Homo sapiens: one gene and its partners. The protein of the gene in region 3 purifies or fractionates together with the protein of the main gene of each other region. This does not show direct contact. Each region holds a gene or a part of one and is shown on either strand. Other genes may lie near its edges. The genes, in order: RFC3, LMAN2L, ITFG1, NIPSNAP1, PCMT1, HNRNPR and AIFM1.

Region 1 (3,500 bases), on a different chromosome or scaffold from region 3:
CATACAACACAAAGCTAGAGATAATGTGCGTAGCTTTCTAGTAAAGGACAATGTAAAACTTTGTAATCAATGATGCATCATGTGCTAGAAAGACACCAGACTATAAGTCAGACTTCTAGTTCTTGTCCTGAACTCCTAGCTAAGTGTTCTTGATCAGGTAACTTCATTTTAGAGTTTTATCTTCATTTGTATATTGAAGATATTATTATTGCCTCACCAAGGGTACTTTTGCATTTGTTGTGAAGAGCAAAAGAGTTATTAATGGTTTGAAAACTAAAAAACCCTGTGCTTATAGATGACCATGCGTTCTACTAAGGATAGCATTGTGTATATACCATTTTTACTCAGGAAGTATTTTTTGACACATTTGCTCAAAATTGCTTCCGTTACTTCTGTAGGTCTATTATTTGTAGGTTGACCATTCTGAAAATACCTCAGCTGCTAGTTGTTTGACTTATGGCAGCTTCGATTGAGAAACACAGTTTGCTTTCCTCCAAATAAAAAATGACAATGTTAAGGCCCACTAACTTTGGAGAGTATGAAGAAGGTTCCTCAGACTTGGCTAAAGCACAGTCTCATATCCTTGTTGGGTTTCTGAACTGAGAAATGATCTTTGGACCTTACAGAGGGTAGTTGATCATTTTAGGGTTCAGAATAAACTGAGTTCAGTCTATAGACTGAATAGACTGCAGCCAATAGAGCTTACTCTTCCTTGGTCTAATGAAAATAATAGAGGAATATGCCATGTTTCTCCTTTTGTTGATACATCTGATGAATTCTAATTTTTTAAGAAATTCTTCAAAGGTATTGTAACATGTATTCCCTGGTTACCATATAGATTGGTGGAGGTGGATAGTGGATCATACATAGTGGGTACTTAGTATTTCATTTAAGGTTTGCTTTGAATTCTCAGAATTCAATTATTTTAGTTGAAGAAATCGATAGTTTTCTCCAAGAAGTACCAAATGTTATAAGTAGTCTCATTAGAAAAGAAACTTCATCTTTAGGAAAAATATGTTCATTTTATTTTGTAAAATGTTGATTATCAATAAAGAGACCTCACCCTTTAAAGAGATAAAATTCAAATAAAGCATGTCTTAGGTGCCTTTTACTTTTATAAAATATTTCTACACTGAAGATGACTTTCTTGTTTTTGTTCTGATATTAAAGAAGAAAAATTGATAGCAATATAACTTACCTACTTTTAGGGGATTTAGGTACTTGAGGTTGTAATGTTTGATAATTATCACGTGCTTTTATAAAACTACTTGATTATTCCTTTGCTTAATTCTTCTAGCTGCTGTTACAAATTTCTTCTGGTTTTCCTAACACATTTTGACGGCTTATAAATGAACTTGTGCAGGAAGCGGTGCTCCTGTTTCCTGTTTAAACCAACAATTGTAGGAATTGATTCCATTGTGCTACATAAAAAGAAATTTTGCTCAATTCCAGAAAGCCTTGGGGCTGGCCAGAAATCCTGGAAGTCTGGTATCTTTCTGATCACTGGGCTACACAATTCCAAATGATTACTTCTGATTTCTGACTCCTTTGTCTTGCTGGAATATTTGTGGTCTCGATTTTTCATTTGATCTGTCTTAGAACAGTCATAATTTTCTAATTTGAATAGCAGCGAATATTTCATGAATGATTATGTCAGCTCTTACACCGTGTTATTTAATTGATATAACACACCTATGAGAAAAATATTAACTTTTTAGATTAAAAAAAAAACCCTGACATTTATGGAGATTAGGTACCTTGTTCAGGTACATTCCATTATTATAATAGAGACAGTTCTAGGATACCCATGTTTCTCTGACAGAAGAGTTTGTACTCTTAATCACTTGTAAGCTATTAGGAAATAATGACACAGACATGGTAAATGTAGAATATGTTAATTTTGTAAAACAGTAATGTTAGAAGTTAACTCAAGACTAACACAAGATGCATGTTAACATGTATGCACTACACACAGTATAGTTACTTCAATTGTATAGGTAACTACATCCTGAATCAACTTTTCAGAAGTAAGCTATATACATATATTAAAATAATTTCATACCATATGAAATTATTTTTATTATTCATGCTTTAATAATCAAGTTTTATTCTTGGGATGTCAGAGAAATCACAGGCTTTTGAGTCAGGCCTGAATTCAAATGCTGGCTCAAATACACAAGTCTTGATGGAAGCCTGACCTGTCTGAACTTCAGGTTTGTTTCAGTAAAAGAGCATCATTGTTGTGGGGAATTAATAGTGTATTGCAGCGAACCTAGTACAGAATTAAGGTGTTAAATACTTTCACAGACATTGGAAAGGGTGTGGACTTTGGAGTAAGAAAGATAGATCTGTGTTAAATCATGCTTTGCTGTGGTCAGTTCTGTCAGTTACTTAAACCATCTGGGCCTTAGTTTTTTCATCTGAAATAAATGGGCTAGTGTAAGTACTGAGTTAAATTATTTGTTTCAATTCTTACACATAGCAGATGCCCCAGAAATGCTAGTTCTTTTTTTTTTTCCCCCACTTTTTTTAAGATTTAATGTGCCAGGGCTTCATATTCCTGACGTCTTAGGATTGACTTCTGCTTTTTAAGAATTCTTATAAATCACTACCTGGATTTATCTGAAGTATGGAACATCTGTACTGTGTGTATATATATATATATATATATATATATATATATCTGTACTGTAAAAATTCAGAAGTTTTTCCCTTTAAGAATGTGTATTTGGAACTTTCTCTCTTTTTTTTTTTTTTCTGTTTTAAAACGTCATATGTACATTTCCCTCCTCTTCCCCTTTCTCTCCCTAGAATATGAGAAGGGCCTAGAATGAAGGACTCAGAGGTTTGAATGTTCCTATTCGCTTAGCCTGGTTGCGTGCTTACCTGTAAACCTTTGTGCCGCCCCTTTTATGACAGGGACAGCTCTGTATCCCTGCCACATTGCTTTTTTACTGTGCAATCTAGGCAGTGGCATTGTATTATATTTCATGCGTATATTATCTTGTGTCACCTATGTAATTGACTTTTTAATCTTTTCATGACCATTTCCTGGATGTTTCAGGTATCTGTCTGGAGAAAAGAAAAACATATTACTTGACATGTCATTAAAGTTTGTTAAATTCCATGGTGTGAATAAGCTCAACCCGCGCTCTTCATGAAGTCTCAATTTCTATCTGGTATTTTCATGGTGTTTTGATATAATTAGGAACCCTGAATATAGACGTCTCATTTTAAAAGAGTTCTGAAAATGTTCTGTTTCAAAAATGAACTGAAGTTAGGAGAAGCCTCCATATGTTTATCCTAAGTATGGTAAACTATTTAAGAAACAGTTATTATTTCTTACTGGATTGTTTGTTAATTCATAAAGTTAGGTCATAAAGTTGTTAATTCTGTATTGGATTGTTTGTTAATTCATAAAGTAAAACCATACAGTGGGAATTTGGAAAAATTACCTCTTATTTTCTTCACAAAATACCAATTATTTTGTTTTATGTAGG
Region 2 (3,636 bases), on a different chromosome or scaffold from region 3:
TGCCCCTCCCCTCTGATGAGACCCCTTCCACCTGCACTGCTGCCTTGGCCATCTCAAGAGCCCACCTAGGTCCTCCCACGGGTCCATACAATCTCCCCTTCAACTCAAAAAAGACAAAACCACCATTTTCTTTTTCAGTTCTCCCTGCTCCAAGGCCAAGCTCTAGGTCAGTTTGTCCTCTGGCACCCTGGAGCCATTCTACTATTGTGGAGGGGAGGTGGGAGGAAGATGCCTCCACCTGAATCCCACCTGCAGGAGAGCACTATAGCCTGTGCTGTTTAAGTGCATGGGAAGGAAAGAAAGCCTGAAGAGACAGAGACCTCTGCCTAGCCAAGGTGACCCCCTTTCCTTCTGAGCTGAGCTGAGGGCTTTTCCAACCCAGGAGAAGGCAAAACAACGGTTGATGGGCTTGAAGCTCAAAAAAAAGGCCTGCTCAGAATAAAGGCCTGAACTTTCCCCAAACCCACTCCTAGAAGAAAGAACACAGTCAGAAGCTCATGTTTGGTTCCATCGGTGATTTTAAGAATTTCATTTAGGCTACAGAGGTTCATAGGAGGACTCAGAGTTCCAGGCCCTCCAAGGAGACTCTGGCCTGTAACTGATTTAATCCCAGGGCAGTAAGGTGAGCAGCATGTAACCCCTTGTCAAATAAGGCAGTGGAATAAGGGTTGACAGAGGCCAGCACTCAGGCTGTGCTGCTCAATGACAGTGAACTCTTCCAGGCACAGATGATGAGGGTCTGTTGCTCTCAGACTTGGAACATGAGAACAGCAACTGTCTCTTGTCCATTAAGAAAAAAAAAGCCAAATTTCTTCTCTGGGCAATATCCAAGCCCAAGGTGTAAGAAGAAAGCTTCCTTACACTTTCAGCACTCAAAGTGGGATTCCAAAAATCGTAACTACAAAACATGCAGCTAAGCAGGCTCTAGCAAGTCCAGAAACATCTCCACATGGTCAGACCACATGACAAATGTTGCTTTTGGTTTGATCAAACCTGGAGCTGGTCAGTTGCACAGCTAATCCATGGCATCCATGATGTCTTCCAGGCTTCTCTTGATTTTTACACCAACCTTTAGCCAAACTTCACTGAGGGCCTGAAGAGACTTGATTGGGAAGGCCATGGACATGCCAATAGACCCAAGACCCATGCTAGGGAACAGTGATCCAAAGCAGAAAGCCATCTCCCTAGGGCCACCTAATGAAGGCCAGTGAAACGCAGGTGTGTTCTGCAGCCCCAGGCCCCAACAGAGAGGCATCCAAATGCCTTTCCCAGCTCAGGTTGCACACAGAGAGGACAATGAATGGAGTGAAAGGAAGGTAAGGCAGGGAAGAAGTTTCCATCCTGGTTTCCAAAGAAAGCTCCTCAGGTAGGCAGAGGGTTGGGTCAAATGCAAAACCCAACGAATGGATGGTCAGAAAGCCTGTGGTGTTACCAGTTTTTAATTCTTTGTGGATTCAAAACTGAAGTAGAAGGGCCTTCTGAGTCAAACAACACGGCAGCCTGGGCTATGAAATTCTGTTCTGTGATTTTGGCATCACAACCACGTAAATTCTCTTCACACCTCTGCTCCCACATGGAAGGACTGCAGGGAAAGGCACATCACAGCAGCATTGCCCTGGGGTGGGTGGCTTCCCAGACCAGAGTTAGATGTCCCCATGCACAACCATGGGAATGCGGGGTCCCTGCATTCAAAACTCCAGTGACAGAATATAGTCCCCAACCAGCTGCTAGAGACAAGAACACTCTCCAGGCTGCATGCTCAGGCCAGTGCCTGCTCCTTCCATACCTCATGGGTGACAGTCACAAAAGTGGTGGCAGCAGGAGGGCTCAGTAGAAGCGCTTTCGGCTCTGTTCCTGCCATTTGTTGTAGAGTATGATACCAATGACTATGGCAAATACAGAAAACACCAGGGAGAAAAAGACGATGAGGAAGAGGGCCAGGCCACTCAGGGGCGGCAGTGGAGCTGTCACTGAGGAAGCAAGAGAGAAGCAAGTCAGAAAACAGGGAGCCCACCCAATAGGGAAGGATCAAACTATAGGCTGTCCGGCCCCCAGTTTCTGACACCTACTTCTGGGAAGCCAGAGCTTAGACCCCCTCTTTCCAACTGAGAAACAAAGCGGCCCTCCTGCTGCTCATCTGTAACTTGAAGGGGAAAGGCAGATGAAAGTGCTCCCTACCCTTCAGAAGAAGAACACAGAGCAGAGACCGCCCTGTGAGCTATGGGTACAGCACTGCAAGCTCCTCCCCAACTATGGGACCATTTCCCGCGGGCCCCTGTGCTCACTCTCAGGCAGCTTCATATTGTCCACTGAGGGCAAGAACACATCTCGATGGAGCTTTTCCTCTTCTGGGGTTCTCTCCACTGTCAGTTCAAACAACTTCAAGGAAATGACATCATGATTATCTGAAGAAAAATGGAAGAAGGATGACTTGTGCCACTTGAAAAAGAGGTATGTTTCTTGAAGTCAGTATCTTAGTTCAAGCCTCTGATCCACAGCTAACCAGCAGTGACCTTGAAAAAATAATTGAAACCTCTCCATTTTGCAACTAAAAATAAGGATGGGGAACAAGGCATATTCTATATCTTCTGTATTTAAGTTTTTATCAACAAGCATGCATTACCTGTATAGAAGATCGCTGACTTAAAATGGTTCGACTTACAATTTTCCAACTTTATGATGGTGTGAAAGTAATCTGCGCTTAGCAGAAACCATACTTCAAAATTTGAGTTTTGATCTTTTCCCAGGCTAGCGATGTGTAGTACAACACTCTGTACTGAGGCTGGGCAGCAGCAGTGAGCTGTAGCTCCCAGTGAGCCACACAATCACAAGGGTAAACAACCAGTACTGCATCGTGTACTGTATTCCATACGTTACATCAGACATTCAACACTTTGTTACAGAATAGGCTTTGTGTTAGATGATTTTGCCCAACTGTAGGCTAATGTAAATGTTCTAAGCACATTTAAGGTAGACTAGGCTAAGCTATGATGTTCAGTAGGGTAGGTGTATTGAATGCATTTTCAACTTACAATATCTACAACCTACAATGAGTTTATTGGGACATAACGCCATTGTATGTCAAGACGCATCTGTATAATTAAAAAATTTGGAGATAAAACCACAATTAAATCCCATATGTTAAACCTTCCAGCACAGTAAGAACAGACAAAGTAGGACTGCAGCTTCCCCGCTGGTGAAGACCACACACGTGCACACACACACACGTACAACAGGAAAAGGTCTCATGGCCGCTGTTTAATGGGCCATGGGCAGGGCACAGCTATGGGCATGGGATACACTGCCCTTCTAGACTATGCCTGTTTCTCTGTGGCTTCTTGTACTTGTGACTCTTAATCTCCCTAATAATTACCAGAGAGAAGATCAAGCAATTAGGGACTAGATTTCTCTCTTTAAAGTATCATTATAAACTCCTACATTTAACCATATCTGATGTGTTGCAATGCACTGAAGTTAGACTTTTTTTTTTTTTTTTTTTTTTTGAGACAGAGTTTTGCTCTTGTTGCCCAGGCTGGAGTGCAATGGCACGATCTCGGCTCACTGCAACCTCTGCCTCCCAGGTTCAAGCAATTCCCCTGCCTCAGCCTCCCAAGTAGCTGGGATTACAGGCATGCA
Region 3 (3,500 bases):
AGAACTTCTTACAGAGGCAGAGTCCATAGGCAAGTGATGAAATCTTGTAGGTTAAGTAAGAGAGATGAAGCTTTAGAATGCTGGTTTTGAGGTGCTGTAAGTCATCTAGGTTGAGCTATCATGGTGACAGTTGGAAATGGGGAAGGACCTTTAGAGATGAGAGCTGGGGATATCTGAAGCCATGATTTTAGATGAAATTGGCAGGGAAAGTGTTGAAAGAAGAGGGCCAGGGGCAGACACTGGGGAAAGCCTGCATTGAGAAAATGGTAGAAGGAGCCAGCCTGCTTAAGTAAAAAAGTGGTTAAAGAGGTTCTACCTCTTTGAGATACCACAGTGCCACAGGAGATACAGTATATATATAGTCAAATATATACTTGTACTTAAAACTTTCATTTTTGGCCACTGCATAATTATTGTTATAAGCACGCAATGTTTATGCTGTAATCAGATCTACTGAGGAATTAATGAAATTCATTTCCTTTGCTTCACAGGTCAAGAACTGTGGAATCTTTCAGATGATATTCTGATACTTCTGGACCAAGTATGTATGGTTGTCCTTGATCTTACTCTTAAGTTGCAATCTTAAGGTTAATTGAATATGTAACTTCATGTTACTGTTTTTGATATGTAAAGGAGTGATTTTTTAAAAGTGACAAGCCTATGAGCATTTATAGAACAACTAATATGTTCTTTTTCATATGTTAAAAGAACAAACACGGTAATTCTAGCAAAAAATGATTATGATGGCATGTCAATCCAGAGTGTAGGTGCAAAAAAAGAAAAACACCTTTCTTTGGGGCCACAAAGCAGCCCTTTTTTGAGGGCATTGATTGGAACCCATATATAAATAGAAACTAGCTTTTTCACATATATCTAAACTGCTAATTTACAGTGATAGCCTCTTTTTTCTTTGCATAAAAATCTTTTACATATTTGGGAGTTTTGTTTTCAATTATTATTTAGAGTATTATACTAAAGAACAGAAATCAGTTTAATGCAAAGAATACTTGATAGATGAAAAAGATGTTTATGGCTTTTTTCTTTTTTTGAGACAGGGTCTCACTCCTTTTGCCCAGGCTGGAGTGAAGTGGTACAATCGCAGCTCACTGTACCCTCAACTTTCTGGGCTCAGGTGATTCTCCGACCTCAGCCTCCTGAGTAGCTGAGATTACAGGCTTGCATCATGGTGCCTGGCTAATTTTTGTGTATTCTGTAGAGACGGGGTTTCATCATGTTGCCCAGGATGGTCTCAAACTCCTGAGCTCCAGCAATCTGTCCACCTTGGCCTCCCAAAGTGCTGGGATTACAGGCATGAGCCACCATGCCTGGCTGTTTATTGCTTCAGTTGTTACCTTCCACCTAAACCTCAAGAAAATAATTTAACCTCTTTTCACTCTAATTCTTTTCAAAGAGATAGCTGATAATCCTAGCCAAAGAATGTCCATGGCTTTATCAGTACATACTGAACACACGTTCATTTTTTAAAATCATTATTATTTTTCAGGTCATTATGAAATTGTTTCTAAATGCCTTTTGATTTCCGGTTGATCACTTTATTACTACCGTACTGCATCAAACTTTTAAAGTAGACATCTCTTGTGATTTGTATGAATTGATAGGAGACATTAGTAACTTCCAGGGATAAAAGAAATTATCATCAATAAAATGATGCTTTGAACAGAACTTGAAAAATGATGAAATTCTAGTCATATGAAAAAAGTTTAAAATAAATATAGTGTTTTTAAAGAGCAATGTATGTATTACTAGAATAAATTAACCAAAATTAATGCTTCCTTTAAATGAACAAACCTTTTCCTGCCAATGTAAAATGCCAATTATTGCCAAGATGAAAACACAGACACCGATGAGAGCTATAGCAGTAAGCAGAACAATATTACTTGGTGTAAGATACAGTTTGGCACTCCAACTGTAGATAAAAACAGAACAAATTAAAATTACAAATTTTATTTAAAAATAACAAAGTTATATTGAGACCCCAAAGCAAAATAGCTTATTAATTAAACAGTCAATGTATTCATTAAACCATTCATTCATCAGTCCATTCATTATAAATAAAACAAAAACAATTAAAAATCAGATAGTGCTGAGAATATTGATGATTCTGCAGTTTATATTTTACCTAGACAACTGAAATAGAATTTTTGATGAGATATTTCAATATTTTTCATTTTCCAAGTTTGATCCTATGAGAATTATTTTTAGGTAAACATATCCAAGGGTACTTTGGATAATCATAGACATCTTTTTTACATCTTGATTTACCTGCTTAATTTGAAAACCTGAACTCTAAAGCAAGGTAGTCACATGATCCTAGAAGCCTTCTGTATCATCTTATTTTTGACCTGTGTCACATATATAATGTGACCAAGTAAAACATAAATGTTGATGGCTTGTGCAAAACTTCTATAATTTTTATATCATGTTGGAGTGTTTACATTACTACAATGACTTTTAGGTTCAGATCACTTACAAAATCATCTTTAGTCCCTCACTGTTAATGGCAATATACAGACTAGAGGTCTTTAGTAAACAGAACTAGTTCTTTCCTTCTAAAACAGTCCATGTAATATAGCATTTGCACACCCTGAAAGCCTAAAACTAAGGACTGTATCACCAAGTGTGAAGGTTGTTATATACACATAACTTTTTGTTCTTCCTAGAAATAGGTAATGGCTATATTTTTATTTTAAAAGTTTAATAAAGGTAAGACTGTTCTGGTAAATAGCAAGTAGCTATTGATTTATTCTGGGATAATTAAAATTTATTGATCCATAAGTTAGCTTCTAGTCAATAACCTCAAAATACACCTCAAAAACTAAAATCAATTTGGTTTTTATTATGTACATAAATTTGAAAAGAACATTTCTTTGGAAAGAGTAAGAGAAACATGAAAAATGTTGAGATTACGGAAAAAAGCTATGGTATAATTTTCTGGAAATTCAGAAGAGTAAGTAAACCTTAAGAAAACAAATACTGTTAATTAGTTGAAAGCTACTCTTAGTGTTATACTCATACTTAAGAAAACAGTTCTTTTATGAGATGTTTTTGGTAGTTCTACTTTTAAAATAGATTTTTAACAAATCAGGAATGTAAGTGTTTTGGTAAAAAAAAAAAAAAAAAAAGACAAAAGTCAATCCTCAGTTTTCTCCTCAGAGGCAGTCACTCTTACCAGTTTCCTGCATATCCTTTCAGAGATATTTTATACATGTATGAACATGTATGTATAGATGGCTTCTTTTTAAATCACAATGGCTGCTTATTATACATACTCTTCTACATTTTGCTGTTGCTTCTTTTGTTTGTTGTTGTTGTTATTGTTTTTTGCTTACCACTCCATCTTAAGAGACTGTTCTATGTCCGTGGCAGTGAAAAAAAATCATGCTACTGAGCTGTATAGAAGTACCGTACTTTATATAGTTTCCTACTCATGGTCCAGATTTTCTAGTTTTACTGTAAATTTCATCTATAGAAAACTAACA
Region 4 (3,500 bases), on a different chromosome or scaffold from region 3:
CCCAAAGTGCTGGGAGTACAGGCATGAGCCACAGTGCCTGGACTATTCACTTTTCTATTTTGGCATAGATGTCACCTCCTCCTGGAAGGCTGCCGAGATTTCCTCCACGCGGGCTGGGTCAGGCACCTTCCTTAGCTCTCCAGGCCTCAGTAATTACCTCCTCACGCCCTGATCATGTACCCCTATAGCTGCCTGTTTAGTTGTCTGTCTCCATATATGGGTGAATCCCCAATATGCAGCACATATTTGTGGAATAAATAGGAGTTCTTCTTGTCTGAGCTGGTGTCTTACAGTCCCAGGGGCACCCCTAGCATGCCCCATCCCAGCCTAATAGACACATCAAAGTTGGCACCAGCTATAAGAACCCACACATGAATTTGGCTGACTCACAGCATCTCAGCCACTCAAAGGGACCTCAAATTCAGACCCACACTGTCCAAAATGATAGCCACTAACCACATGTAGTTATTTATTTATTTATTTTTTTGAGATGGAGCCTCGCTCTGTACTGTCACCCAGGCTGGGGTACAGTGGTGCAATCTTGGCTCACTGCAACCTCTGCCTCCTGGGTTCAAGTGATTCTCCTGCCTCAGCCTCCTGAGTAGCTGAGGTTACAGGCGTGTGCCACCACACTTGGCTAATTTTTGTATTTTTAGTAGAAACAGGGTTTCACCATGTTGGTCAGGCTGGTCTTGAACTCCTGACCTCATGATCCTCCCGCCTGAGCCTCCCAAAGTGTTGGGATTACAGGCATCAGCCACTGCGCCTGGCCTATTTATTTATTTTTTTGAGACAGCGTCTCACTCTGGTTTCCCAGGCTGGACTGCAGTGGTGCAATCACAGCTCACTGCACCCTTGACCTCCCGGGCTCAGATGATTCTCTCACCTCAGCCTCCCAAGTAGCTGGAACTACAGGTGTGCACCACCACAGCCAGCTAATTTTTTATATTTTTAGTAGAGACAGGGTTTCGCTATGTTGCCCAGGCTGGTCTTGAACTCCTGGACTCAAGCAATCCGTCAGCCTTGGCCTCCTGGACTACTGAGATTACAGGTGTGAGCCACTGCGCCCTGGCCTCACATGTAGCTATTGAAATTTATATTAGTTAAAATTACATAAAATTTAAAGTTCAAGCTGTGTGCCAAGGTGCTCACCTGTAGTCCTAGCTACTTGGGAGGCTGAGTTGGGAGGACTGCTTGAGCCCAGGAGTTCGAGGCCGTGATTGAATACCATCACACCTATGAATAGCCACTGCACTCCAGCCTGGGCAACACAGTGAGGACCCTGTCTCTAAAAAAGAAAAAATTCAGGACTGAATATGGTGGCTTATGCTTATAATCCCAGCAGATTAGGAGGCTGAGGTGGGAGGAACACTTGAGGCCAGGAGTTTGAAACCAGCCTGGGCAACATAGTGAGACTTTGCTTCTATAAAGAAAATACATATTAAAAAAAAAAGAAGAAAAGATTTTAAAAAGAAAAAATTCAGTTTCTTAGTCATACTAGCTACATTTCAAATGCTCACTCATATACACACAGGCTCATGCAGAAAGTACTTTTGGACAGTACTGGTTTAGAGTGTCTGCATAGCACAGCCATAACAGATGGTCCTCTAAACTTCCCTTGAACACTCCTAGCCATGAAGAGTTCACTTGTAAGCCAATCTATTTCATCCTTTGACAGCCCTGATAATCGTGTCTTTGAAAATAATCTGTGACCTGCAGATAGATAGGTGTATCTCCTTAATCAATTATTTGGTTTCCGTAACAGACATTAACATATTATTTATGTTTTATTTTTATTATTTCCATTTAGAAACAGGGTCTCACTATATTGCCCAGGCTGGAGTTGAATTTCTGGGCTCGGGCAATCCTCCTGAGTAGCTGGGACTACAGGCGTGTGCCATCATACCTGGCTAGACACTGATATGTGGCTAAGGGAATAAGAGAAAAGCAAATTGCCTTCAGTTTCAGCCACTACAGCTTTCCCATTTTAAGCTTGACTTGATCAGCTCCAGCAGTATTCCTTGAATTCTCTTAAGCATTTGCTAGTTGTGAAATGAACTCTGAGGGATGGGATCCTGACTTTTTCTTTTTTTTCTTTTTCGAGACCGAGTCTCACTCTGTTGCCCAGGCTGGAGTGCAGTGGCGTGATCTCAGCTCACTGCAACCTCTGCCTCCCGGATTCAAGCAAGTTCTCTTGCCTCAGGCTCCCGAGTAGCTGGGACTACAAGTATGAACCACCATGCCTGGCTAATTTTTGTATTTTTAGTAGAGATGGAGTTTCACCATCTTGGCCAGGCTGGTCTCGAACTCCTGACCACAGTTGATCCACCTGCCTCGGCCTCCCAAAGTGCTGGGATTAAAGGCGTGAGCCACTGCCCCTGGCCTTTTTCTTCTTTTTATTTTTCTGTTTGGGACAGGGTCTCGCTCTGTCACCCAGTTTGGAGTGCAGTGGCATGATCATAGTTCACTGTAACCTTGAACTCCTAGGCTCAGGCGATCCTCTCACCTCAACTTCTCGAGTAGCTGGGACCACAGACATGCACCACCATGCCTGGGCTAGTTGTTTTGTTTTGTTTGTTTGTTTGTTTTGTAGAGATGAGGTCTTGCTATGTTGCCCAGGCTGATCTCAGACTCCTGAGCTCAAGTGCTCCTCTCCTGCCTCAGCCTCCCAGAGTGTTGGGATTACAGGCCTGAGCCACTGCGCCTGGCTGATCCTGACTTTTTAAAGCATACCCTACATTTTTTGTACCTTGAAGTTCAGTCCCTCACATAGTCAGCTGAATCATGTTGAGCTGTACGCTGGGAGTAGGGTTCAAGAATCTACATTTTAATAAACTTGTAAGAACCATTGATCCATCTCCTATGGAGAGCACCACAGTTGTTAGACAATTCCTTCTTCTTGGCTGGGCGCGGTGGCTCATGCCTGTATCCCAGCACTTTGGGAGGCTGAGGCAGGTGCATCACCTGAGGTCAGGAGTTCAAGACCAGCCTGGCTAACAAGGTGAAACCCTGTCTCTACTAAAAATACAAAAATTAGCTGGGCGTGGTGGCATGCGCCTGTAATCCCAGCTACTTGGGAGGCATAGGCAGGACAGTCTCTTAAATCCAGGAGGTGGATGTTGCAGTGAGCTGAGATCACGCCACCGCACTCCAGCCTGGGTGACAGAAAAATAAAGAAAATTCCTTCCTCTTGCCAATGATGCTGTCCTTGTAACTTTTCTCCGTTAATCCGTTTTCCACAGGTCATTCCTGGTTTTGGTAGATTTCTATCCATACAGTACTTTTGCCATTTCCTTTGGGAAAAAGACCTTTAAACCATAGGGTCAGGCCATTTTGCAGATGGGAAAATCAAGGCACAGATGGAGTCAAAAAACAGGTGAAGGTCAGGCTGGGGATGGGGATGGGAAGTTACAGAGTCTGAGTTTCTAGACTGCTGGCAGCCAGCTGCCCTTAGCTCTAGCTTGCCTGTGTGATCCCCTGGGGACCTTCCTCCGCTGATG
Region 5 (3,500 bases), on a different chromosome or scaffold from region 3:
CACAGGATCAGGGCAAAGGCCAAGGCAAGCAACACCTCCACTTCCTCCTCAGCCAGATCCCTCTAGGGGATGGCTGTGGCTACTAGAGCTGCCCGGGCCTTTATTTTATTTTATTTGTTTTTTTGAGACGGACTCTAGCTCTGTCGCCAGACTGTAGTTCAGTGGTGCGATCTCAGCTTACTGCAACCTCCACCTCTCGGGTTCAAGCGATTCTCCTGCCTCAGCCTCCCGAGTAGCTAGGACTACAGGCGTGCGCCACCACGCCCAGCTTATTTTTGTATTTTTAGTAGAGACGGAGTTTCACCATGTTGGTCAGGCTGGTCTCAAACTCTTGACCTCATGATCTGCCCACCTCAGCCTCCCAAAGTGCTGGGATTACAGGTGTGAGCCACCGCTCCTGGCCAATATTTTATCTTTTAAACAAAACTGAGTGTGTCTGGGGAATACAACTGGATATTCATACACAAAAACATATAACTGCACCTTTACCTCACACATACACAAAAACCAACATCAGGAAGATCAAAAACCTAAACATGAAAAGCTAAAAATGATAAAGGTTCTAAGAAATAATAAGAGACATATCTTCATGGTCTCAGAGTATCCTTAAAAAGGACACAGAAAGCACTGAAAAAAATTGGTAAGTCTGACTACATTAAAATTAAGAATTTCTATTATCAAAAGGGTACCAATAAGATGAAAAGGCACACCTCAGATGGGAGAAGAAATGTATTTATATATATAGACAAAGGGCTAGAAGCCCTGTAAGTCAAAAATACAAGCAATCCAATATCTGAACAGGTACTTCACAAAAGACAAAATCCTAATGGTCAGACACATTACAAAAAATTCAATCTCAGAGGTTAATAGGAAAATACAAAATTAAACTCACAAAGAGATGGCTGCAAAATACACACTAGGTGAGCAAAAATAATCGTTTTTATTTTTTAGTACTTAAAAGTGATTGTAAAAAAAAATACAATAATTACCTCTGAGTATTATTTAGCTTGCATTGGATCTTCTGAAAATAAAAATCCTCTGAAGAAATTTTTAAAGTTTTCTGATACTTACCAACAAGCTGTACTCTCCCTGAAGACAGAAGTGTTGGATCGTCCTTCCTGACATTATTTACTGAGTCATCTACTAGCTCTTTAATGTGATCAATTCCTATGACTTTTCCAGTACATCCAACCTGGAAAAGAGAAAACAATTCAGTAGCTCATTGGGCTAAATTTGTTTTTCTAAAGTATTATTGAAGTTTTTCCTTATCGAAAGTCATATTCTACAAAGAGAAAACAAAAATAGCTTAAGGCTTCTATAGATTGCTAAACACTCAGTTTATCATAAATTATTTACCATATATACAACTTTCTCAACTATCACTCTCATTGAATAAAACTTGTAATACTAAGAAAAATTATATCTTTCTTAGATTAAATCTAGAACTTTGAAGAAAATTACCAATATTTAATAGTAGTACAATAATTTTTTATTTAAATTCCATCTAAAGTATAACTTTAAATATTAAAATGTTACATAAAGAATTTGACAGGGAGGAATTTCTTTTTTTTTTTTTTTGAGAGAGAGTCTCGCTCTGTCACCCAGGCTGGAGTACAGTGGCACGATCTCAGCTCACTGCAACCTCTGCCTCCCAGGTTCAAGCAATTCTCCTGCCTCAGCCTCCTGAGTAGCTGGGACTACAGGCCCCCGCCACCATGCCCAGCTAATTTTTTTGTATTTTTAGTAGAGACAGGGTTTCACCACGTTGGTCAGGCTGGTCTCAAATTCCTGACCTCGTGATCTGCCCGCCTTGGCCTCCCAGAGTGCTGGGATTACAGGACTGAGCCACCACACACCCTGCCTCCCGCCTGATGGGAAGGAATTTCTACACTTGTTTCTACTGCTTTTAGTAGAAAACATGAAAATATATACAGTGGCTCACACCTATAATCCCAGCACTTTGGGAGGCAGAGGCAGGTAGACTGCTTGAGCCCAGGAGTTTGAGACCAGCCTGAGCAACATGGCAAAACCCCATCTCTACAAAAGAATACAAAAACTAGCCAGGTGTGGTAGCATGTGCCTCCTAAGTCCCAGCTACTTAGGAGGCTGATGTGGTGTGAGGATCACTTGAGCCTGGGAGGCAGAGGCTGCAGTGAGTTGAGATCGTGCCACTGCACTCCAGCCTGGATGACAGACTGAGACCCTGTCTCAGAAAACAAACAAAAAGCAACAACAACAAAAATCCCTTCTTTGCATATTTATTTGTAAATTAAAATATTAAGTATAAATGTTTCAAGAAAAAATATAAAAATTTAAAAAATTAACACATAAAGGCTTTGAAGTCAAACTATCTGGGTTCTTGTCTAAGTGTCATCACTTACATACATACATACCTTGGCAAGTTAACCGTTCCTTCTTTTTTTTTTGAGATAAAGTCTCGCTTTGTTGGCCAGGCTGGAGTACAGTGGCGTGATCTCAGCTCACTGCAACCTCTGTCTCCCGGGCTCAAGCAATTCTCCTGCCTCAGCCTCCCAAATAGCTGGGATTACAGGCGTGTGCCACCACACCCAGCTAATTTTTGTATTTTTAGTGGAGACGGGGTTTCACCATGTTGGCCAGGCTGGTCTCGAACTCCAGACCTCAGGTGATCCACCTGCCTCGGCCTCCCAAAGTGCTGGGATTACAGGCGTGAGCCACCACACCCGGCCTATCATTCCTTGTATGAATCAGGTTCCTCAGTACAAAATGGGGAGGAAAAAGGCATAAACCCCATCATAAAAATGGGGTAGCACTTAGAACACAGGCTCTAGTGCTTAAAACACAAAGTACTTTCACACATGGTAAATGTGTGAAAAACATTAATGCCATTTTATGAAAAACAACTCAGAAACCAAATGATTTTTTAAAATGAATACATCCTCTAAAACTATAAACATGTCAAGTATAGAGAATGAGTCATTTATTAAATGGCATTTCTAACCTTAAAAAAAATCACTGATATCCATTAATGAGGACTTAACCTCTACAAAATGAGCAAAACATCTGAGAAAATATGAGTCCTTATTATGTGCCAGGCATTGTTTTAGATGTTTAGGATACCATCATGATAAAAAAGAGCAGACAAAATTTCCAACTCCCTGGAGCTTACATTCTAGTAAGTCTGCTGATTATACATTTATAGCAAGTTACATGGATTCTAGTCCAAGGTGGATCCACAACTCCCAATTTAACTAGATCAGAATATTCCAATCTGTCCTCCAGGCACGATATTTCTCAAATCAAACTGATGTGATGATCTAAGCAATGATCAACCTTTACTCCAACATATATTAGTGGGTCCCCAGTTAATACTCTGGATAGCCATTGACCAGATAAGACTCTGATGAGAAAAGGCAGAAGTATAACAAGGCATTATTTTTCTAAGAGCACTTTTTCTAATGCAGAAGTTTTACCTTCATCCTGGTAAATCTGCAGGAATGTTTAGAAACCAGGCTCATTCT
Region 6 (3,500 bases), on a different chromosome or scaffold from region 3:
ATACTTCCAAGGCATCATGCTATCGAATCTTACAAAACAATACAGAGATTAAAAATAACTTGCCTAAGATCACAAACTCAGTAATAACCTGGCTTTGAAATATGGAGTCTTATCTGTTACATACTATTACCACTTTACAGAGATTAAATAGAAAGAGTTCAGCAAAAGCTGACAACCAATATTGTTTCAGTTTTTAAAGTTACTTTGTGTTTGGCAAGTTTCAAAAACAAAATTCAAATATCAAGAACCAAAATTTCAAAATTCCTACCTTAACAGCTGCTCCTCTGTCTTCAAAATGAACAAATGCATAATCTTTCAACTTCTTTACTCTTTCGAGTTTTCCAAATTCAGAAAATGACTTTTCCAATATTTCTTCTGTCACCGTAGTAGCCAAGTTTCTCACAAACAAAACTTTTACCTAGTAAGCAACAAATAAACAAAACCGTCATTGGCTACTTAATTTTACCTGAAAAGTGTTTCTTCCTGTCTTCATAGCATAGCTTTTCTCCTCTAAAACATTAAGTGCTAAAAGTGTTGTTACAGGTAGTAAGAGAAATTGCTAGGAAAATGACACTGATATCAGTCACCAATTTACAAAAATTATTGGTTCCTGCCTTCTCCTATGTTGTCATTAAAGCACCTAACACTGAGTAGAACCTTCAAGGAACCAACACATAATTATTATTACCAAGTTAATCAACAAAAAGTCCCTTTCAAAACAAGTTTTTCTGTTTCTTTCCTCTAAAACTGAGTAACTTTCAAAAGTTCATATGAAAAAATAAATAAGCAAGAATAACCAGGAAAAAAAAGAGTGAAATTTAGAGGCTGGCCCTACCAAATATAAACAAACTATAATGCTTAAATCATTAAATCAGGTAGTGTTAAATTAGAAAAAAAGGAGAAAAGCTGGTCCATGCCTTACACTATACACAAGGATAAACTCCAAATAGATTGAAAATTTAAATAATAAAAGGGTGGAGGGAGGACTGTGAAATTTTAGAACAAGAATGATTCCTTTATATAACACTGGAGTGGGGATGACCTTATGACTTAAAATCTAGGAGCCATAAGAATGTTATACTCAACTACTAAAAATAAATGACTTCTATATGGCAAAAAAATACTATAAGCAAAGACAATAAATATGGATGAAAAATTTGCAACATGTATCACAAACAGCTAATCTCTCTTTTATATCAGAGCACCAGAAAATAACAAAAAGCTCAACAACTGAATAGAAAAATAGGCAAAATTCCTGAATACATGGTTCATACACAGAAACACATATGGCTCTTAAAATATATTTAAAGTTCAAACCATTCATAGTAAGAGAAGCAAATCATTAATCATTAATGGCACTGAGACATTTGTTATCAGGCTGGCAAAATTCAAAAGTTTGATTATACACTATTTTGTCAAGAATGAGGAAAATAATTCTCTTGTATTTTGCTGGTAGGAATGTAAAATAGTGTATCTCCTACAGAAAGGAATATGGCAGTATCTTAACAATTACAGATATATCTACCCTTTGGCCCACAATTCTACCCCTAAGAATCTATCCTACAGATATATCTCCACTTGTATCAACTAACATAAGCTTATTCCTTCCAGCACTGTAAGAGCAAAAGATTAGAAACAATATCCAGCTGGTTAAATACACTATAGTACCTCCACAGAATAGACTACTATGTAGTCATAAAAAATGAAGAAGAGGGCTGGGCGCGGTGGCTCACGCCTGTAATCCCAGCACTTTGGGAGGCCGAGGTGGGCAGATCACCTGAGGTTGGGAGTTCAAGACCAGCCTGGCCAGCATGGTGAAACCCTGTCTCTACTAAAAATACAAAAATTAGCCGGGCGTGGTAGGAGGCACCTATAACCCCAGCTACTCGGGAAGCTGAGGCAGGAGAATCACTTGAACCCGGGAGGCAGAGGCTGCAGTGAGCCAAGATTACACCACTGCACTCCAGCCTGGGTGACAGAGCAAGGCTCCGTCTCAAAAAAAAAAAAAAAAAAAAAAAAAACAAAAACCCAAAAAATGAAGAGGAGCTCTATGAGTTGTAGGATAGGACAACTTACAGTCAATGTGATAAGCAAGTACTGTGCCATAGTTTAGTTGGCAGTGTTTTTTAACTATTTAGTAGTACATATAGTAATGATGTATTTCCTCAGAGCTGATGAAACAGGATGGTGAATAAACAAAAGGTAGATCAGTGGATATGGTAGGCTACCAACATTACTACCACTCATCTAAGAATTAAGGAAGTATATCCATATTTGCCGAAGGAAATACTAAAAGGAAACCAGCAACTATTAAAACTGGATGCCTTATAGGAGACAAAGGGGATTTGGTAGACACAGGGATAGGGGTAGAAAGGAAATTTCTTTGTCTATACTTTTCTATATAACTTTTGAACTAAGAAAACATAGTACCTATCCAAATAAAAAACTAACATATTGAACAAATTGTTGCTTCAGATAAAGGGCTATCTAATAAGAAGATACTAATTTAAGGAGGAAAAAAACTAACATTTTCCACAAACGCTCCATCCCCTTTATTATTCTCAATTTGTCATACTAAGGTCCAGCCTCTATGTTACACAGACTCCCACTGGTTTAGTTGCTTTTTAAAAAAAATTCAACATGGACTTTTCTATGATGAAACGATAACATACTATGTGAAAATTACTTACTGAAATTGTGTTTAAAATGTTCAACAGGAAAAAGGGTCCCTTTAAGAGACATATATTTAGGCTTTTAGGTTATGGTACATTGTAAAACTGACCCAACTTGGCAAAAAAAATCTTCAGTGAATTGTAAATTGATAGTGTGAATAACAGAAGCTTTACTCAAATGGATAAACTTTTCTTTTCAATTAGGAAACAATAAAGGAGCTGGATGGGGTTGCAAGCACCCGGGAGGCTGAAGCAGGAGGGACGCTTAAGCCCAGGAGTTCAAGGCTGCAGTGTGCTATGACTGCACATGTGGGCAGCTACTGCACTCCAGCCTGGGCAACATGAGACCCCATCTTTTAAAAAAAAGAAACAATAAAGGGCTCCATAATATTTAATCCTAAGTTTATAGAGACCTCCTTTTCATTCTGAAACCTGTTTTAGATCTAGGAAAAAGGAGTTACCAGAATGAAATCTTGAAGTTTTCTAACCCTAAAAAAAGATTAGGATGAACTTCCATCTGAGCAGTTACTAAAGGTTATGTGAGAAGTGGCTGGTAAGCAAATTACAAGCTATACTTTTGGTTTTCATGGGATTTTATTCCTCTTTTATAATATTTTATTCCTCTATTATAATACATCTATAATACTATTTTAAAATATTTTTACAGAAAAAGTAATACAGGCTATACTTAGTTACTACAGGTAGATTCAAAGTTGTGGTGGATCTTAGAGATTGATCCAGGCTCAATAAAATAGATGACATTCATGTTCAGTAGTTTACCCAAAGTCATAGTTGTATTAGGAGAAGAAACAATAGGAATTAAAATCA
Region 7 (2,990 bases), on a different chromosome or scaffold from region 3:
TAGCACATATTCTCCATGACACTGCATTTTTTTTTTTTTGAGACGGAGTTTCACTCGTTGCCCAGGCTGGAGTGCAATGGGTGCGAACTCAGTTCATTGCAACCTCTCCCTCCTGGGTTCAAGTGATTCTCCAGCCTCAGCCTCCTGAGTAGCTGGGATTACAGGCACCCACTACCACCCTGGCTAATTTTTGTATTTTTAGTAGAGACGGGGTTTTACCATGTTGGCCAGGCTGGTCTTGAACTCCTGACCTCAAGTAATCTGCCCGCCTTGGCCTCCCAAAGTGCAGGGATTACAGATGTGAGCCACCGCACCCGACCAACACCGCACTCTTATGCCAACCAAAGAACTTAGTATGCAGATCACGAGAGATGCCAACTGATCTGCTGTTGCTAGAGCATCTAGGGATGACCATGAGAAAGTAAGATTAACCCTAATAGCTTTGACTTTTCCTTAAAAAGCCATTATACACGACCACATATCCATGCGGTGATTGAAACGTTCTTGAATTTATTCGTGCTTTTATCCCATGCCACATTTGGAAAGTGATGAGGTTCCCACTTTTGCTATTCACTACTTTTGTCTTGAAATTCCCTTTTTGAAGCTTTAAAGAGTGTTCCACATTTATGGAATTCAGAATTTGAGATGTTTTATGGCTTCATTAACCTACAGTATTTCCCCTTAGCCTCCACTTTTCTTTTTTTTAACTTTTAAAAACTTTTTATTTAAAAAATTCAGACGAGCTCTTGCTATGTTGTCCAGGTTGGTCTCGAACTTCTGGGCTCAAGCAATCCCCCGGCCTTGGCCTCCCAAAGTGCTGGGATTAGAGGCATGAGCAACCATACCAGACCAGCCTTCATCTTTTAGGACTGGAATGCTTTCTGACACTCCTTTTTTTTTTTTTTTTTTTTTTGAGACGGAGTCTCGCTCTGTCACCCAGGCCGGAGTGCAGTGGTGTGATCTCGGCTCACTGCAACCTCCACCTCCTGGGTCCAAGCAATTCTCCTGCCTCAGCCTACCGAGTAGCTGGGATTACAGGCATGCACCACCACGTCCAGCTAATTTTTGTATTTTTAGTAGAGACGGGGTTTCACCATGTTGGTCAGGCTGGTCTCAAACTCCTGGCCTCGTGATCCGCCCACCTCGGCCTCTGACCTATTTTGCCGGAAGTGCTGGTGCCATCTCCATTCATTCACCTAGTCTAACATACGCCAGACAGAACACTTAAAATAATTTTTTTCTCTTTTAATGTTTTACAAAAGGATCAGTTTGGTGAAAAACTAAACAGGACACTTCTGCCAGATGGCTACCTGAGGGTAGAATGTGTGGACATAAGATGGACTTTTTTCCCTTCTGTATGAAGCTAACTGGCTCATAATAAAACCAAACCATAACTCTGTGTTATGGTCCTAGAGATACTGAGTTGTAATCAGTTGGGTCTCCAAGGCACACCACTATTACCAGAACATTGACTGATGCCAGTACGGCTTAGCAGCTCCAGTCATATTTTCTCCAGCCAATCTTCCACTCACAACAGCGTGATCATGGTGCTCTACCCGCCTCCTTCCCAACTTTATATCGTAGAAGCATGCAGCATCTCCTGCCTGTGGAAACAAATACATAACATGAACACATGATAAAAAAAAAAAAAGCAAGTTAAAGACAAAATATAAACTTTGGGGGCTCAAAGAACACTTGTAATGGTAACTAATTCATGTTTTCCATCTACAGGCCAGAGTTGTACTTAAACTAACAAAAACAGCTGATAACCCATTTAAATTTTTTTTTTTTCTTTTAGACAGGGTCTCACTCTATTGCCTGGGCTGGAGTGCAGTGGTGCGATCATGGCTCACCACAGCCTGGACCTCCAGGCTCAGATGATCCTCCCGCCTCAGCCTCCCAAGTAGCTGGGACTACAGGAATGCACCACCATGCCTGGCTAAATTTTTTTTTTTTTTTTGGTAGAGATGGGGTGTTGCCATGTTGCGCAGGCTGGTTTTGAACTCCTGGGCTCAAGCAATGTGCCTGCCTCAGCCTTCCAAAGTGCTGGGATTACAGGCATGAGTCACCACGCCTGGCCTGAGATCTCATTTTAAAACATCTATTCCAGGCCAGGTGCAGTGGCAAATGCCCGTAATCCCAGCACTTTGGGAGACCAAGGTGGGTGGATCACAAGGAGTTCGAGACAAGCCTGGCCAATATGGTGAAACCCCATCTCTACTAAAAATACAAAAAATTAGGCGTGTGTGGTGGCAAGCGCCTGTAATCCCAGCTACTTGGGAGGCTGAGACAGGAGAATGGCTTGAACCCAGGAGGCGGAGGTTGCAGTGAGCTGAGATCGTGCCACTGAACTCCAGACTGGGAAACAGAGCGAGACACCGCCTCAAAAAAAAAAAGAAAAAAAAATCTATTCTGCTTCCATAAAGCTAACCTAAATCTTCTATAGTTTTGTTTACTTATGTCTACTTCCTGTTCTTTCCTTAACAGACAGGATATTTAATAACCATGATTTGCAGAATATTCTTTTCTATATGTAGAAACCAGTTTTTGGATGTGACTGCCTCTCACCTAGAAATGTTTTCTTAGATTTCTTTTTGTCACTCAGTATTCATTCATTCGACAAATATTTATGGAGTACTTATTATATACAAAAGTATTATGTTGTCCGGGTTGCTGAGACAAAACTGACATGGACCTTGACTATGAGGAGCATACAACCTAGTACAGAAAGATACAGCCTTGCTCACAACTACAGAGCAATGTAAACAGTAGTGTGCCATATGAGAGGTACAGATTAAAGGAGTCAAGTATTTCAAGCAGAGGGCGAGAACCTCCAGCCGGGGGTGAACTGGACCAGCTTCATGAAGGATGTGGCATTTGAGCTCTCTAACCCTTTGTTCATCTTTGTGGCTATTTAGACTCCCCCAAAGCAACCTAAAAATCCAACGAGTGAGCAACCGTAAACTGTGAAATTCGCTTAATGGAATATA

Evidence for each region.
Region 1: the proteins of ITFG1 (region 3) and RFC3 purify together in Homo sapiens (affinity purification with mass spectrometry, with the first as the bait; one large-scale study listed by BioGRID). This does not show direct contact.
Region 2: the proteins of ITFG1 (region 3) and LMAN2L purify together in Homo sapiens (affinity purification with mass spectrometry; 2 studies listed by BioGRID and IntAct, with this or other methods). This does not show direct contact.
Region 4: the proteins of ITFG1 (region 3) and NIPSNAP1 purify together in Homo sapiens (affinity purification with mass spectrometry, with the first as the bait; one large-scale study listed by BioGRID). This does not show direct contact.
Region 5: the proteins of ITFG1 (region 3) and PCMT1 purify together in Homo sapiens (affinity purification with mass spectrometry, with the first as the bait; one large-scale study listed by BioGRID). This does not show direct contact.
Region 6: the proteins of ITFG1 (region 3) and HNRNPR purify together in Homo sapiens (affinity purification with mass spectrometry, with the first as the bait; one large-scale study listed by BioGRID). This does not show direct contact.
Region 7: the proteins of ITFG1 (region 3) and AIFM1 purify together in Homo sapiens (affinity purification with mass spectrometry, with the first as the bait; one large-scale study listed by BioGRID). This does not show direct contact.

Annotation. Positions count from the first base shown.
Region 1 is NC_000013.11:33,831,649-33,835,148, forward strand, and holds part of RFC3 (replication factor C subunit 3), read left to right. Parts: intron 1-3,499; coding exon 3,500-3,500. UniProt on the Homo sapiens protein: Subunit of the replication factor C (RFC) complex which acts during elongation of primed DNA templates by DNA polymerases delta and epsilon, and is necessary for ATP-dependent loading of proliferating cell nuclear antigen (PCNA) onto primed DNA.
Region 2 is NC_000002.12:96,705,429-96,709,064, forward strand, and holds the end of LMAN2L (VIP36-like protein isoform 2 precursor), read right to left. Parts: intron 2,406-3,636; coding exon 2,286-2,405; intron 1,971-2,285; coding exon 1,828-1,970; 3' UTR 501-1,827; downstream 1-500. UniProt on the Homo sapiens protein: May be involved in the regulation of export from the endoplasmic reticulum of a subset of glycoproteins. May function as a regulator of ERGIC-53.
Region 3 is NC_000016.10:47,157,064-47,160,563, forward strand, and holds part of ITFG1 (T-cell immunomodulatory protein isoform 1 precursor), read right to left. Parts: intron 1,928-3,500; coding exon 1,810-1,927; intron 542-1,809; exon of another isoform or gene 492-541; intron 1-491. UniProt on the Homo sapiens protein: Modulator of T-cell function. Has a protective effect in graft versus host disease model.
Region 4 is NC_000022.11:29,564,114-29,567,613, reverse strand, and holds part of NIPSNAP1 (protein NipSnap homolog 1), read left to right. Parts: intron 1-3,500.
Region 5 is NC_000006.12:149,791,241-149,794,740, reverse strand, and holds part of PCMT1 (protein-L-isoaspartate(D-aspartate) O-methyltransferase), read right to left. Parts: intron 1,193-3,500; coding exon 1,072-1,192; intron 1-1,071. UniProt on the Homo sapiens protein: Initiates the repair of damaged proteins by catalyzing methyl esterification of L-isoaspartyl and D-aspartyl residues produced by spontaneous isomerization and racemization of L-aspartyl and L-asparaginyl residues in aging peptides and proteins.
Region 6 is NC_000001.11:23,313,285-23,316,784, forward strand, and holds part of HNRNPR (heterogeneous nuclear ribonucleoprotein R), read right to left. Parts: intron 419-3,500; coding exon 269-418; intron 1-268. UniProt on the Homo sapiens protein: Component of ribonucleosomes, which are complexes of at least 20 other different heterogeneous nuclear ribonucleoproteins (hnRNP). hnRNP play an important role in processing of precursor mRNA in the nucleus.
Region 7 is NC_000023.11:130,131,852-130,134,841, forward strand, and holds part of AIFM1 (apoptosis-inducing factor 1, mitochondrial isoform AIF precursor), read right to left. Parts: intron 1,605-2,990; coding exon 1,462-1,604; intron 1-1,461. UniProt on the Homo sapiens protein: Functions both as NADH oxidoreductase and as regulator of apoptosis.